4 linked regions of the Homo sapiens genome follow. The protein of the gene in region 4 purifies or fractionates together with the protein of the main gene of each other region. This does not show direct contact. Each region holds a gene or a part of one and is shown on either strand. Other genes may lie near its edges.

Evidence for each region. Proteins that work in one complex are often made in the same cells at the same time.
Region 1: the proteins of VIPR2 (region 4) and SETX purify together in Homo sapiens (affinity purification with mass spectrometry; 2 studies listed by BioGRID and IntAct, with this or other methods). This does not show direct contact.
Region 2: the proteins of VIPR2 (region 4) and FASTKD1 purify together in Homo sapiens (co-immunoprecipitation; 3 studies listed by BioGRID and IntAct, with this or other methods). This does not show direct contact.
Region 3: the proteins of VIPR2 (region 4) and FAM241A purify together in Homo sapiens (co-immunoprecipitation; 3 studies listed by BioGRID and IntAct, with this or other methods). This does not show direct contact.

Annotation. Positions count from the first base shown.
Region 1 is NC_000009.12:132,327,184-132,331,061, reverse strand, and holds part of SETX (probable helicase senataxin), read left to right. Parts: coding exon 1-10; intron 11-562; coding exon 563-3,878. UniProt on the Homo sapiens protein: Probable RNA/DNA helicase involved in diverse aspects of RNA metabolism and genomic integrity.
Region 2 is NC_000002.12:169,563,563-169,567,440, forward strand, and holds part of FASTKD1 (FAST kinase domain-containing protein 1, mitochondrial), read right to left. Parts: intron 1-3,878. UniProt on the Homo sapiens protein: Involved in the down-regulation of mitochondrial MT-ND3 mRNA levels which leads to decreased respiratory complex I abundance and activity.
Region 3 is NC_000004.12:112,144,230-112,148,556, forward strand, and holds the start of FAM241A (uncharacterized protein FAM241A), read left to right. Parts: upstream 1-1,224; 5' UTR 1,225-1,351; coding exon 1,352-1,504; intron 1,505-4,327.
Region 4 is NC_000007.14:159,134,583-159,138,473, forward strand, and holds part of VIPR2 (vasoactive intestinal polypeptide receptor 2 isoform 1 precursor), read right to left. Parts: intron 1-3,891. UniProt on the Homo sapiens protein: G protein-coupled receptor activated by the neuropeptides vasoactive intestinal peptide (VIP) and pituitary adenylate cyclase-activating polypeptide (ADCYAP1/PACAP).

The DNA of each region.
Region 1 (3,878 bases), on a different chromosome or scaffold from region 4:
GACCAAAAAGGTATAAAACACTTTGAAAATTCAGATGCTATTTTATTGCCTTTATATTGTGTAGACTATTTTGTATAATTTGTTGAGTTGCAGATTTTGTGATATGTAGCTGTTCTCAATCTACTGCTATGTAAAAGCCCTTCTCATTGAACAGCAGATGTATTGTGTGTTGGGGAAGATGGACTCTAACTACAGTATGCATACTTTGGAAAATTAACTTATAAGTACATTTAGGGAAGATGGAAAGTTTATGGGGACATACATGGCATGACTAGAAATCAAAACTAGCTAGTGGACAGAAGGTGAGAGTACATAAAGGTGTTACCAATTTGTCTTTTTATGAAAACTCAAAATTCAATTTATATTTTCACTTTCTTGGGAGTTAGGTGTATTACGATTGTGATATAATTATATGCCACAATTATACCATTGTATAGCATAATAATGATGTGGTAAACCAAAATAAGAGAGTTGAGAAACGTATTTTTCTTAACGACTTGGGTGTTGAACCTGTCATAAGTGGTGCTTATTTATCTGAACATCAGCATTTCTTTCATTTTAGGATTCTGGATGGAGAACAGCCATTTGCCCAGATTATTGTCCTAACATGTATGAAGAAATGGAAACATTAGCCAGTGTACTTCAGTCAGATATTGGTCAAGACATGCGTGTTCATAACAGCACATTTCTATGGTTCATCCCTTTTGTCCAGTCCCTCATGGATCTTAAGGATTTGGGTGTGGCTTACATAGCACAGGTTGTTAATCATCTGTACTCTGAAGTCAAAGAAGTCCTCAACCAAACAGATGCTGTGTGTGACAAAGTCACTGAATTTTTTCTTCTAATTTTGGTATCAGTGATTGAACTGCATAGAAATAAAAAATGTTTGCATTTGCTGTGGGTAAGTTCCCAGCAATGGGTGGAAGCCGTCGTCAAATGTGCCAAGCTTCCTACCACTGCGTTTACACGGAGTTCTGAGAAATCATCTGGAAATTGCTCCAAAGGAACAGCAATGATATCTTCACTGTCATTGCATTCCATGCCATCTAACTCTGTACAACTTGCTTATGTGCAGCTGATTAGAAGTCTCCTTAAAGAAGGTTATCAGCTTGGGCAGCAGTCTCTTTGCAAGCGATTCTGGGATAAGCTCAACTTATTCCTTAGAGGAAATTTATCTCTAGGTTGGCAGTTGACTAGTCAGGAAACCCATGAGCTACAAAGTTGCTTAAAGCAAATTATTAGAAACATAAAATTCAAAGCACCTCCATGTAACACTTTTGTGGATCTGACTTCTGCATGTAAAATCTCTCCTGCATCTTATAATAAAGAAGAAAGTGAACAAATGGGGAAGACGTCTAGAAAAGATATGCATTGTTTGGAAGCTTCCAGCCCAACATTTTCTAAAGAACCAATGAAAGTGCAAGACAGTGTATTGATCAAAGCAGATAACACTATAGAAGGTGACAATAATGAGCAAAATTATATAAAGGATGTGAAACTAGAGGACCATCTCTTAGCTGGGTCATGCTTAAAGCAGAGTAGTAAAAACATTTTTACTGAAAGAGCTGAAGATCAAATTAAAATAAGTACAAGGAAGCAGAAGTCTGTAAAAGAGATCTCTTCATATACACCAAAGGACTGTACTTCAAGAAATGGTCCAGAAAGGGGATGTGACAGAGGAATAATAGTATCAACACGTTTGTTGACTGATTCTAGCACTGATGCTTTGGAAAAAGTGTCCACATCGAATGAAGATTTCTCTTTAAAGGATGATGCTCTTGCTAAAACCTCAAAACGAAAAACTAAGGTACAGAAAGATGAAATCTGTGCAAAGTTATCACATGTAATAAAGAAGCAACACAGGAAGAGTACTTTGGTCGATAATACTATCAATTTAGATGAAAATTTGACTGTATCTAACATTGAGAGTTTCTATTCAAGGAAAGATACAGGAGTTCAGAAAGGAGATGGTTTCATACACAATCTTTCTTTAGACCCTAGTGGTGTTCTGGATGATAAGAATGGAGAACAAAAATCTCAAAACAATGTATTGCCAAAAGAGAAACAATTAAAGAATGAAGAATTAGTTATTTTCTCTTTCCATGAAAACAATTGTAAAATACAGGAATTTCATGTTGATGGTAAAGAATTGATCCCTTTTACAGAAATGACCAATGCTTCAGAGAAGAAATCATCTCCCTTTAAAGATCTTATGACTGTACCTGAATCAAGAGATGAGGAGATGAGTAATAGTACCAGTGTGATTTATTCTAACTTGACAAGAGAACAGGCCCCTGACATCAGTCCTAAATCTGACACCTTAACGGATTCTCAGATAGACAGAGACCTTCACAAATTATCTTTACTAGCTCAAGCCAGTGTTATTACGTTCCCATCCGATTCACCTCAGAACTCATCGCAGCTGCAAAGGAAAGTAAAAGAAGATAAAAGATGTTTCACAGCTAACCAAAATAATGTTGGAGATACCTCCCGTGGACAGGTTATTATTATTTCAGATTCTGATGATGATGATGATGAAAGAATCCTGAGTCTTGAGAAACTCACTAAACAGGACAAAATATGCCTTGAGAGGGAACATCCAGAGCAGCACGTTTCAACAGTTAATAGTAAGGAGGAAAAGAATCCAGTAAAGGAAGAAAAGACAGAGACTCTTTTTCAGTTTGAGGAATCTGATTCTCAGTGTTTTGAGTTTGAAAGTTCATCTGAAGTGTTTTCAGTTTGGCAAGATCATCCAGACGATAATAATTCAGTTCAAGATGGTGAGAAAAAATGTTTGGCTCCTATAGCCAATACTACAAATGGTCAGGGTTGTACAGATTATGTATCTGAAGTTGTTAAAAAAGGAGCAGAGGGCATTGAAGAACACACAAGACCACGGAGTATTTCTGTTGAAGAATTTTGTGAAATTGAAGTAAAAAAGCCTAAGAGAAAACGATCTGAAAAACCAATGGCTGAAGATCCTGTGAGGCCTTCATCTTCTGTCAGAAATGAGGGCCAGTCTGATACTAATAAGAGAGATCTTGTGGGAAATGATTTTAAAAGTATTGATAGAAGGACTTCAACTCCCAATTCACGTATTCAGAGAGCCACTACGGTTTCACAAAAGAAGTCTTCAAAGCTTTGTACTTGTACAGAACCCATCAGGAAAGTTCCAGTTTCTAAGACCCCTAAGAAAACTCATTCAGATGCCAAAAAAGGACAGAATAGAAGTTCAAATTACCTAAGTTGTAGAACAACTCCTGCTATAGTGCCGCCAAAGAAATTTCGTCAGTGTCCTGAGCCAACTTCAACAGCTGAGAAACTTGGCCTGAAAAAGGGTCCTCGTAAGGCATATGAGTTGTCCCAGCGGTCTTTGGATTATGTAGCTCAATTACGTGATCATGGCAAAACTGTTGGAGTAGTTGATACCCGAAAAAAGACTAAATTAATTTCTCCTCAGAACCTGTCTGTCAGAAATAATAAGAAACTTCTGACTAGTCAAGAACTTCAGATGCAAAGGCAGATCAGACCCAAATCACAAAAAAATAGACGAAGACTTTCTGATTGTGAAAGTACAGATGTTAAAAGAGCAGGGTCACATACAGCACAGAATTCTGACATATTTGTACCAGAATCTGATAGGTCAGATTATAATTGTACAGGAGGAACTGAGGTACTTGCCAACAGTAACAGAAAACAGTTAATAAAATGCATGCCTTCTGAACCAGAAACCATAAAAGCAAAACATGGGTCTCCAGCAACTGATGATGCTTGCCCTTTGAACCAGTGTGATTCTGTAGTGTTAAATGGAACAGTACCAACAAATGAAGTAATTGTCTCCACTTCAGAAGACCCTCTGGGTGGAGGTGATCCAACAG
Region 2 (3,878 bases), on a different chromosome or scaffold from region 4:
AATGATTTACTTAATTTTTTTAGATGACAGAACAATTTTGACTCAAGGTTGCATATTAACAAATATAATGGCTGCTACTACAACAGTGCTATGAATTTTTTTAATAGGAGAAATAATCCAATTTCTTCAACAAGAAAATGGCAAGACAAAAGAGAGGAAAAAGGAACTGTTATAGATTTTATGACTTTGAATTCACTAAAAAACAAGCATAAGAAAATTCACAGCAACACATATGTAATAGCAAAACCCTGCAAAAAACCCGAATGTCCATCAAGAGTACAATGGATAAACTGCACATACTCATACAATAGAATAAAATTATGGAATCATACAACATAATGGATAAATCCTTAAAACATACTGAGCAAACTAAACTATAAGGGTACATACTATAGGATTCCATTTCTATAGAAACAATTTATGGTGTTAGAGGTCAAGATCCTTTTTGGGTGAGAGGACTAGAAGAGAACATGAAAAGAACTAATGATGTTGTTTCCTTATCTTGGTGCTGTTACATAGCAATGATCAGTATATTAAAATTCATCATGCTGTATGCTTATGACTAGTATAATTTTTATACATTATTTTTCTGTAAAGTTTATTTAAAAAGAAACAAAAAAATTTAAGAGACACAGTAATTGTGAACCTTACTCAGAAACTGATTTAAATAAACTGCCTATAAAAAGACCTTTATAAGACAATCAACAAAATTTGAACACAGACAAGGTACTAGGTAATATCGAAAATTTAAATTTATCAATTTTATTATGTTTTTAAGACACAGTGTCTCACTGTGTTGCCCAGGCTGAACTTGAACATCTAGGCTCAAGTGATCCTCCAACCTCAGCATTTTTATTAAAATTAAAAAAAAAATTTTTTTTGTGGGTACATAGTAGGTACATATATTTATGGGGTACATGAGATATTTTGATACAAGCATGCAACGCAAAATAAACACATCATGAAAAATGGAGTATCCATTCCCTCAGGCATTTATCCTTTGAGTTACAAACAATCCAATTACGTTCTAAGTTACTTTAAAATGTATAATTAAGTTATTATTGACTATAGTCACCCTGTTGTGCTGTCAAATAGTAGGTCTTATTCATTTTATTTTTTTTTACCCATTAACCATCCCCACCTCCCCCACAATCGCCCGTTACCCTTCCCAGCCTCTGGTAACCATCGTTCTGCTCTCTACGTCCATTAGTTCAATTGTTTTGATTTTTAGCTCCCACAAATGAGTGAAAGCATGCGACGTTTATCTTTCTGTGCCTGGCTTATTTCACTTAACATAATAATCTCCAGTTCCACCCATGTTGCAAATGACAGGATATCATTTTTTTTACGGCTGAATATTACCCCATTGTGTATATATACCACATTTTTCTTTTTTTTTTTTTTTTTTGAGACGCAGTTTCGCTCTTGTTGCCCCAGGCTGGAGTGCAATGGCGCGATCTCGGTTCACTGCAACCTCCGCCTCCCAGGTTCAAACAATTCTCCTGCCTCAGCCTCCCGAGTAGCTGGGATTACAGGCATGCACCACCATGCCCAGCTAATTTTGTATTTTTAGTAGAGACAGGGTTTCTCCATGTTGAGGCTGGTCTCGAACTCCTGACCTCAGGTAATCAGCCCGCCTCGGCCTCCGAAAGTGCTGGGATTACAGGCGTGAGCCACCACACCAGGCTTTTTTTTTTTTTTTTTTTTTTTTTTTTTTTGAGAGGGAGTCTCGCTCTGTCACCCAGGCTGGAGTGCAGTGGCGCGATCTCGGCTCACTGTAAGCTCCGCCTCCCGAGTTCACGCCATTCTCCTGCTTCAGCCTCAGGAGTAGCTGGGACTATAGGCGCCCGCCACCACGCCCGGCTAACTTTTTGTATTTTTAGTAGAGACGGAGTTTCACCTTGTTAGCCAGGATGGTCTCGATCTCCTGACCTCATGATCCGCCCGCCTTGTCCTCCCAAAGTGCTGGGATTACAGGCGTGAGCCACCGCGCCCAGCCACCACATTTTCTTTATCCATTCATCTGTTGATGGACACTTATGTTGCTTTCAAATCTTAGCTATTGTATACAGTGCTGCAATAAACGTAAGAGTACAGATATCTCTTCAATATATTGATTTCCTGTCTTTTGGGTATATACCCAGGCAGTGGGATTACTGGATCACATGCTAGCTCAATTTTTAGTTTTTGGGGGAACCTCCAAACTGTTCTCCATAGAGCTTATACTAATTTACATTCCCAAAAACAGTGTGCAGGGTTCCCTTTTCTCCACATCCTTGCCAGCATTTGTTATGGCATGTCTTTTGGATATAAGCCATTTTAACTGTGGTGAGATGATGTCTCATTGTAGTTTTGATTTGCATTTTTCTGATGTTGCACCTTTTCATATGCCTGTTTGCCATTTGCACGGGTCTTTTGAGAAATCTCTACTCAAATCTTTTGCCCATTTTTTGATTGGATTATTAGACTTTTTCCTAATTAGAGTTGTTTGAGCTCCTTATATATTCTGGTTATTAATCCCTTGTCAGATGGGTAGTTTGCCAATATTTTCTACCCTTCTGTGTACTCTCGCTTCACTTTGTTGATTGTATCCTTTGCTGTGCCACCTCAGCCTTCTGAGTAGCTGAAACTACAAGCGTGTGCCACCACGCCCAGCTGGTTCTATATTTTTAAAAAGTCCTTAGAGAAACATACTGAGGTATTTAAAGATGAAATGATATTATTTAAAATATACTGAAGTATACTGAGAGTGGGAGGGGATATAGATAAAACAAGACTGGCTATGTGTTGACAATTGTTGAAGCTGGAGGATGGGTACATGGGAATTCGTTGTACTACTCTTTCTCCTTTTGTAAATGTTAAAAATATTCTATAATAGAAAGTTTTTTAAAAAAAATTTGGATTTCTTGGGAGGCCAAGGTAGGAGGATTCCTTGAGCCCAGGAGTTCAAGACCAACCTGGCAACATGGCGAAATCCCATCTCTACTAAAAATATAAAAATTAGCTGGGCGTGGTGGCATCCACCTGTGGTCCCAGAAACTTGGGAGGCTGAGATAGGACGATGGCTTGAGCCTGGAAGTCTGAGGCTGCAGTGAGCCCTGGTTGTACCACTGTACTCCACCCTGGGTAACAGAGCCAAACCCTATCCCAAAAGAAAAAAATATATATGGATTTCAAATACATGTTAATTATCCTTGCCATGATTCATCATATAGTACTAATCCAGAATAATCTACCCCATTTAAATCATTACAAATTATATTTATAAAACAGGCTGGGCACAGTGGCTCACACCTGTAATCCCAGCACTTTGGGAGGCCAAGGTGGGCAGATCACGAGGTCAGGAGTTTGAGACCAGCCTGGCCAATATGGTGAAACCCTGTCTCTACTAAAAATACAAAAATTAGCTAGGTGTGGTGGCAGGTGCCTGTAGTCCCAGCTACTTGGGAGGTTGAGGCAGGACAATCACTTGAACCCAGGAGGCGGAGCTTGCAGTGAGCTGAGATCACACCACTACGCTCCCGCCTGGGCAACAGAGCGAGACTCTGTCTCAAAAAAAAAAAAACATAAGTTTATAGATATTTTAGCAAGATCATTGTACTTCTGAGTTATTTTGAAATAAAGAAAAATTTAAAAGAAATGCTTGATTCACTATAAAATACAATCATACATGTAATTTAATTAATACAGTAATTATAAAACACAAAAGACCACCTATTTTACAAGTGATTTGTTCAAGCTGCATAATACACATAACGTATCCTTGCTTTGAAGAGAAATAAAATGTTGTGACCTATTATCAACAAATCTAACCCCAAAGATCCAGTAAATAGATAATTTGTACTGTTAGCAAAAGGAATAAGATTACTCTGCTTACC
Region 3 (4,327 bases), on a different chromosome or scaffold from region 4:
GATATTTTATTTAAACACCCTTCCATTTTCCTTGAATAAAATGGATGGAGTAGTACAAAAAATAATTATCAATTGGATATATTCCCCTCACCACCCACTGAGAAAGACATATTCTTACCCAGTTACAGAAAGATACATCATTTGATACACCATCAAACGACCCAAGGCTCCAACAAACAACACACACTAGGAAGCACTCAACAGAAAGGGACAAATACACAGACCTTCAGTGAGACACTAGGAAAGGAGGCTAAAGGAACAAGAGGGACAGTGAAATGTGTCTTCCTTGAAAAGGACGGGCAGATACTCAGGCAAGAACAGGGGTACTCTGCTGGAGAGTGTAACTGGGTGCATGTGTGTGTTTCTCTCTCACATACAAACCCACACACACTAATCTCTTATACAAATGCGCTCTCTCTTAAATATATGCACTGGCTCTCTCACACAAGTAATTTCTCTTTCACACTTGATCTCTCTCAGTTTCTGTTGTTCCCTCATACAATCTCTCTCTCACAGTCTCTTGCATACACATACAATCTCAATCTCTCTCTCTCTCTCTCTCTCTCTCTCTTTCCCCCCCCCCTCCTCTCTCTCTCTCTCTCTCTCTCTGAAACGGGGTCTGGTTCTGTCGCCCACGCTGGAGTGCAGTGGTGTGATCTCTGCTCACTGCAGCCTCGACTTCCCGCGCTGAGACGATCCTCCCACCTCAGCCTCCTGAGTAGCTGGGACCACACTGCCGCCACCACGCCCGCCTAATTCTATTTTTAGTAGAGATGGGGTTGCCCAGGCTGGTCTCCAACTCCTGGGCTCAAGCTATCTGCCCGCCTCGGCCTCCCAAAGTGCATACAATCTCTTATACGCAGTTTCTTTTATATAGAATCTCTCTCACACACACACACAAATCACGCTCAGCGTCTCTCTCACACTCTCTAACGGTCTCTTACGCACACACAATATCCCTCATACATACACACAGCCTCTCTCATGTACAATCTCCCTCATGCAGTGTATGTCCATAGTTTTTCACACAACACCCTTCTTCTCTCAGTCTGTCGGCCTCTCTCTCAATCTCACACACACACCCCCGCCCCCCAACACACCGTTGGCCCCGCCCCCTGTCTTGGCCCCTCCCCTGTACGGCTCCGCCCCGACGGCCGGGGGTTGGGCGAGCCAGTGACAGGAGGGGCCGGGCTGGTACTTCAGGCGCCCAGGCCGGCGGGGCGCGCTCCGGCGGCTCCTGTCAGCGGCGGGTGCGGCGGATCCCAGGGCAGCCTTCGGGCGGCGGCGCTGCCTGGTGCGTCGCGGCGTGGTCCTCCGGCGGCTGTCCGGGGCGGTAGGAGTTGGCTGCGGGATGTGCTCAGCCGGGGAGCTGCTGCGGGGCGGCGACGGCGGGGAACGCGACGAGGACGGGGACGCGCTGGCGGAGCGGGAGGCGGCAGGGACCGGGTGGGATCCCGGGGCGAGCCCGCGGCGGCGCGGACAGCGGCCGAAGGAGAGCGAGCAGGTGAGCGCGGGGAGGGGCGGCGGCGAAGCGGCCGGGTCGGGGGCCGCGAGCCCCGCCCGGCGTTGGAGGGAAGGGGCCCGGCCCGCGGGCCGCGCCGCAGCTCTGCCCCGCGTGGGCACTGGCTCCCCGGCGCTCTGGGAAGTCGTCGCCGGGAGCGGTTAGACGGCGCTCCCAGGAGGAGCGGCGGGGTCGCGCGAGTGCAGACGCCAGCGCCGGCCCCGGGGTCGCGTGTCTGGCGGGGTCAGCGTGGTTCGTCCCCTGGCGTCCGGCAGAGGATTCTCAGGCTGGCGCCCAGGGCTCGGAGGAAATGCCCTCCATAGCGGTGATTTATTTAAAAGCCTCACTTGTAAACACTTCTTTTTCAACTTCGAGTCCGTGCCCTGCGCCAGGTTTAGGAGACGCCGGCTCCCCTCCCGCCCTCCATCTTGCGTTTCCGAGCCCACACCTAGCGTGTCTGGAAGGTGTGGGTGGATTCCGTCCACGGGCAGCGCTGAAAGCATGAGTAGGAGCGGGTGTTACAATGAATGTCTTGACAGGGACTCTCCCAGAGCACGTTCTTCATAAATACAGATGAGATCAAAGCTTCAGTTAAAAAGTGGAGAGGCAAGAATATTGCTTTCGGTTATAAGAGGCCAGCCATAGTAAGGGAAAAGAGAAGTTGCGTAATTTTTTAAACTCTCTGAGTTTATCTCATTTAAATAAAGTGTGATAATGGGCATTATAACATCAAATATCTTAAAGATTAGGCAAAAGGTTTAATTTTAAAAATTGAATTGTATGTTGGATGAATTTTCTACAGCAAATACAGTATTTAGACTTTCCAAATACCTGAGGTAAGCCGCTCTTTAGACTCACATTAAGGAGCAGGAATTCAAATGATTATTGGCCTTTATTACAGCCTGTACTGTTAGGACAATTAATACCTGTCTCTCCTCATCTTTCTTCATCTGTCCTTTCTGTCACGTTTCACAAATTCCAGTATCATCACTAAATGCATTAATAGATGTATACCTTACATTGTTTCAATAGGTTACTTAGGAAACAGAGTAATACTGTGTGGCACACAAAATATGCCTTAGCGTTAGGTTTGATCACCACGTGGAGTGTAATTTTTCATCTGTGACAATATAAGAGAAAGTGACTCAAGCAAATAATTTGGTAGCTTGTTCTTCGGATTCCCTTCCTAGTGGTTTTTCCCGTTAACTATTCATTTGCTCAAGGGCTTGATTTCCTCTAACTTAAATTGCTTAACTGGAAAAGTGAAGAAGACAGCACAAGAATTCCTTTGGGGGTGGGGAGGGGTTGCATTTGAGCAGGGGTTTCCAAAGTAAATTTTCAAATAGTTGTAAGGGAGCATATAAAAATACTTCATTTAAGCTTCTGTGTACTTCATTAGTATGATTATGTAGACATCACTAATAGTTGTGGTCTTTCCAAAATTGCTTATGGTACAAAGTAAAAGGATAAAACAAAAAATGAAAAGTACATCTTAGAAAACATATCACTTTGCATACCTGCCTCCTTCATTGAATGTCATGAAAGTTCATTCTCCTGTACTCCTTTGAAGTGTTATTTTTATCATTCTGTTTTTGCCTCAAGATTTATTAATGTATTCTAAGCCCCCATACACAATAATTGAAAATCACACCGGAGATAGGCATTTCCTACTACATTAGCACCAAAGAAGAATTAGTCAAGAAGACAAAAATAAGCAAAAAATTGGTGCAACCCAACCCATTGTTGTAAAAAGCAAGCTTTTCTGATAAAACGTTTCTTGGTAATGTTATCACAAAGCCTTGTTTTCTAGTTTTTTTCAAGTTCTGTAAATGAAATTATGCATTGCCATGTAATGATGGTAGAAATAGTATTACATGTGTAAAGATATTTGAGGAAGAAATGAAATTAACAACTATGGAACATATCCCAAGGACTCATTTTATTTAGTTTTTATTTAGGGAGATGATTTTTGTTTGTCCTGTTGGTTGGTTTAAGGATACAAGGACTCCAGATTACAAATGGAATATTTTTGAAAGATTGGTTTCTAAGTTAATGATTTAGAACTTAAGGTGAACTTTTCCATGAAAACAATGATATAAACAGGAACAGAACCAAAACTAATTAGCTGGAAATGAGACAGAGGCCATCTTCCTGCCGTCTTTTCTACTTGGCACGCTCACTTCGTGTTCCGGAGTCATGGATAGCCTCATGGGTATTGAGAGGAAATTAGAGGCAGGAGCTAGCAGAGGCGCTCCTTTTAACCCAGAAAAGAGCTATGGTTGTATGCTCTTGAACACCATAGCTCCAGAGGCACCTGACTTGTGCTCCTCTAGCTCTTTCAATGATTTTGTCAACACCTAATTTTCTGTATTAAGTCCCTTTCTATTTCTATTCCCCTCACAGAGTTTGCCCTTTCCTAATAATTTGATGGAGGTTTCTTTCTTGGGCTATTTCTCAAGCTAAATCCTCGTCCACATACATCCCTTCCTTCACTGATTTTTCTTTCCACTTCTGTCTGAAAGGTTCATTCCTTTTCCTCAACCTGGAAAGCTCTTTCATCAGCTTGTTATTACAATACCAGAACAAAATGTATCTTTATTTTGTTACTTATTTCATATATATATGAAATATATAAAACACCTAGTATTAACATAGGTGTTTTATTACTAGTTAAGATATTGTCTGCATCATTTTTAACAATTTGTCTTTAGATGCTACTCCATTTGAGCAAAAAATGAAGGTTCTTCTGTCATTCTGGCCTGAGTCTTTCCAGGTAGGGCGATTGACAAAGGATGCCTGGTTAAAATCAAGTCACTTAAGAAAGGA
Region 4 (3,891 bases):
TTATAAGTTTTTGTTAAAAAAAGCTTCAAGTACTGACACAAAGTGAGTTTGTTTTCTATTAATAGTGCAATATTTTCTTTCTTTTTTTTTTTTGAGACGGAGTCTTGCTCTGTCACCCAGGCTGGAGTACAGTGGGGCCATCTCGGCTCACTGCAAGCTCTGCCTCCTGGGTTCACGCCATTCTCCCGCCTCAGCCTCCTGAGTAGCTGGGACTAGAGGCGCCCGCCACCACGCCCGGCTAATTTTTTGTATATTTAGTAGAGACGGGGTCTCACCGTGTTAGCCAGGATGGTCTTGATCTCCTGACCTCATGATCTGCCTGCCTCAGCCTCCCAAAGTGCTGGGATTACAGGAATGAGTCACCGCGCCTGGCCAATAGGACAATATTTTCTTGAATATTGGTCTTCTCTTAATTACAAAAGTTTTTTTTTTTTTTTTTTTTTTTTTTAACATTTTAAGTAATTGGCCTAGAAAACAATGATTTTGTGTTTTATCAGGATAACTTATTAAGCTTCATGCTGTCTCTAGTCTTTGATTAGTTAAGAAAAGTGAGTCTTTAACATTAAAAAAGGGCCGGCTACAGGGGCTCGCGCCTGTAATCTCAGCACTGTGGGAGGCCAAGGCAGGCGGATCACTTGAGGAGTTCAAGACCAGCCTGGCCAACATAGTGAAACCCTGTCTCTACCAAAAATCCAAAAAATTAGTTGGGCATGGTGGCACATGCCAGTAATCCCAGCTACTCGGGAGGCTGAGGCAGGAGAATTGCTTCAACCCAGGAGGCAAAGGTTGCAGTGAGCCCAGATCGCACCCCTGCACTCCAATCTGGGTGACAGAGTGCGTGAGGCTCCGTTTCAAAAAATAAATAAAATAAAAATAATATTTAAAAAGGAAAGTTCTTTATTACAATCTGGTATCTGTTCCATAAAAACCTGCTGAAAAATGTTAATAAATGGGAGGAGGCCGGGCACAGTGGCTCACGCCTGTAATCCCAGCACTTTGGGAGGCCAAGACGGGTGGATCACCTGAGGTCAGGAGTTCGAGACCAGCCTGGCCAACATGGTGAAACCCCATCTCTACTAAAAATACAAAAATTAGCTGGGCGTGGTGACAGGCGCCTGTAATCCCAGCTACTCAGGAGGCTGAGGCAAGAGAACTGCTTGAACCCAGGAGGCGGAGGTTGCAGTGAGTTGAGATCATGCTATTGCACTCCAGCCTGGGCGACAGAGTGAAACTCCATCTCAGAAAAAATAAATAAATGAGAGGATCAGCCAACGCATCAGCAAATGTCAGCCGGACGGTTTAATTTCCACTCATCCCACGACACGAGGCAACCCTCAAACACACAGGTCCTGGCCATGAAGCCTTCAGGGAATCACAGGACTGGGTGCTGACCCAGAAAACTCTACAAAGCTTTGTGACCAAAGAGGTTCGAGTCCCAAGTCCCCTTCAGGAAGAGCTGCAGTCTGCTCATGTGTCTAAGTTTGCCTCTGTTGCTTATAACAACATACCGGAAACTGGGTAAATTATAAAGGAAAGGCATTTATTTCTCACAGTTATGAGGCTGGATAAATCCAGGGTCGAGTGGCCACAATGGCTTTCTTGCTGGCGGGGACTTTTCAGGGTTCCCAGGTGGCACAGGCCATCGTGTAGTGAGGGGGCTGAGCGTGTTGGCCCAGGTCTCTCTTCTTCTTATAAAACCTATCCCTTGAAAACCCACTAATCTATTAACGGATTAACCCACTTACGAGGGCAGAGCTTTCATGACCCAATCACCTCTTCAAGGCCCGTCTCTCAATACTACTACATTGAGGATTGTTTTAACCTAAGTATTGAAGGGGATAAATATTCAAACCATAGCAAATCAAAAACATGTGAGAGTCGAAGCCACCAAGAATCTGACAGGTTGCATGAAAGCGCACATTAGTGTCCATCCACAGTGGCCATGTACCCAAGACAACCACTGCTGCCCCGGAAGAAGCTGAGAGGTCACTGGCCACACACTGAGGAGCTGTGTGTGTGGTGAGCTGCATGCTGGCTGTGGGTTTCGTTTCCACTGACCCAGGTCTCTGAGCCTCTCAAGAACCCCCGCGTCAACACAGTCCTTGTGGAAGAACAGGCTGAGCCCAGGAAAAGGAGGAGGCCCCGACAGACAACATGCTGTAAAAACCATGGCTCATAAGTAAAGAATGTGAAATGGGTATATAAATATAAAATCATAAAAAATGAGGCCAGCAGGAATTGTTACTGCTGTGGCCATGTGGAGAAGCAGCCGCCACTCGTCACCAACCCCCACCAGCAGGACAGGAAGCAGCCAGGTTCTGAGGACACCCAGGCATACCTGGGGAGGAGGAGGCAGGTGTGAGAGCCCAAGGATGGAGGAGACAGAGATCAAGGGAGGGGAGTGGAGAAGGCAGAGAGGTATGCACCAGGAGAGGCCATCGACTGGTGGGAGCTTGCTGTGTCTGGGGTCACCAGCACCAGACTGAGCCCTGACCTCAGCAGGAGGGGTGGGGAGGAAGCTGACTCTGACCCCATCAGCAGCAGCTCACCTCAAGGGGCCGGCCGCCCACCCTGAATGGCTTCCTGTGACCCACTGTGGTCACCCAGGCAACAGCTCCGTTCTTCCCAGACAGGAGAAGCCATTAGTGCACTTCTGAGTGGCCCACTCCTTCACCTGCCAGAAACTGACTTCTCAACCATAATTCCCTTTATGATTCTTAAGCATTTTATTCAGGGTAAAAATTAATTCAGTGAGATTTGTTTCCTATAAAAAGTAAATATAAAGACATTACTTTAAAAAAAAATAGAGACAGCTTCTTGCTCTGTTGTCTGTGTTGTCCAGGCTGGAGTGCAGTGGTGCCATCATGGCTCACTGCAGCCTTGAACTGGGCTCAAGCAATCCTCCTGCCTCAGCCTCCTGAGAAGCTGGGACTATAGGTGTGTGTCACCACACCAGGTTAAGTTAAAAAGTTTTTTTGGTGTCTTGCTATGTTAATCAGGCTTGTCTTGAACTCCTGCCTTCAAGTTACCCTCCTGCCTCGATCTCCCAAAGTGCTGGGGTTACAGGCATGAGCCCATTGCACCAGGCATAAAGACATTACTTTAAGACTGTCCCAACCAATAAACAGTTATTAATTATTTAAATATCCAAGACGAGGAAATGACCTTAAAGAGTTTAGAAAATGGAAGAAATCTAGTCAAAAAGATCCAAAAGAAAAAAGTGACCAGGCTGTTTATCTCATCAGTCCAAAAAGTTATTTGGACTAGAACAAGGACCTACTTATATCAGAAAGAAAATGAAAAGGAAAGATATAGGCACCTTTTAAGATACAACTGACGTCTACACCATCAATATTGACATCAGAGGAACCTACTTCTCTGCTCTCTGCCGTGGATGCCAAAACTGCTCGGTTCAGACCTTCTGGAGCATAACACAGTGATTATTCATTTAGTTTCTTAGAACAGGTCTGCCTTGAATATCTGCTGAGGACCACGAACAGCGAGCTCCCACCAGAGCTCCAGCTCCCGCAGCAGAGGGCAGCATCGCAGGGCAGCTGAGCCGAGACCACAGAGCGAGGTGGAATGCTGCAGCCACACAGGGCCTTGGACCCTCCGAGGAGGGTCAGTGCCCACATGACGCTGTGAGCAAGAACCCATTTGTGGACACTGTCTGGTTTCCTCTGACAAAGAGAAACAAGCAAGAAGGGGTTAGGTGTAAAATGGGTTGTGATTAACCATATCCCACATGACACAACCGACACAGGAATGAGAAAGTGGGCTAAAATAGTGTCATTTGGTCATAGGAGATGGTGATTCCCATTTTATATGAGTGGCTTGAAGTTAACCCTCAAATGCTGGTGAAATATTTTATTCCCACCAACAAAACGGTCA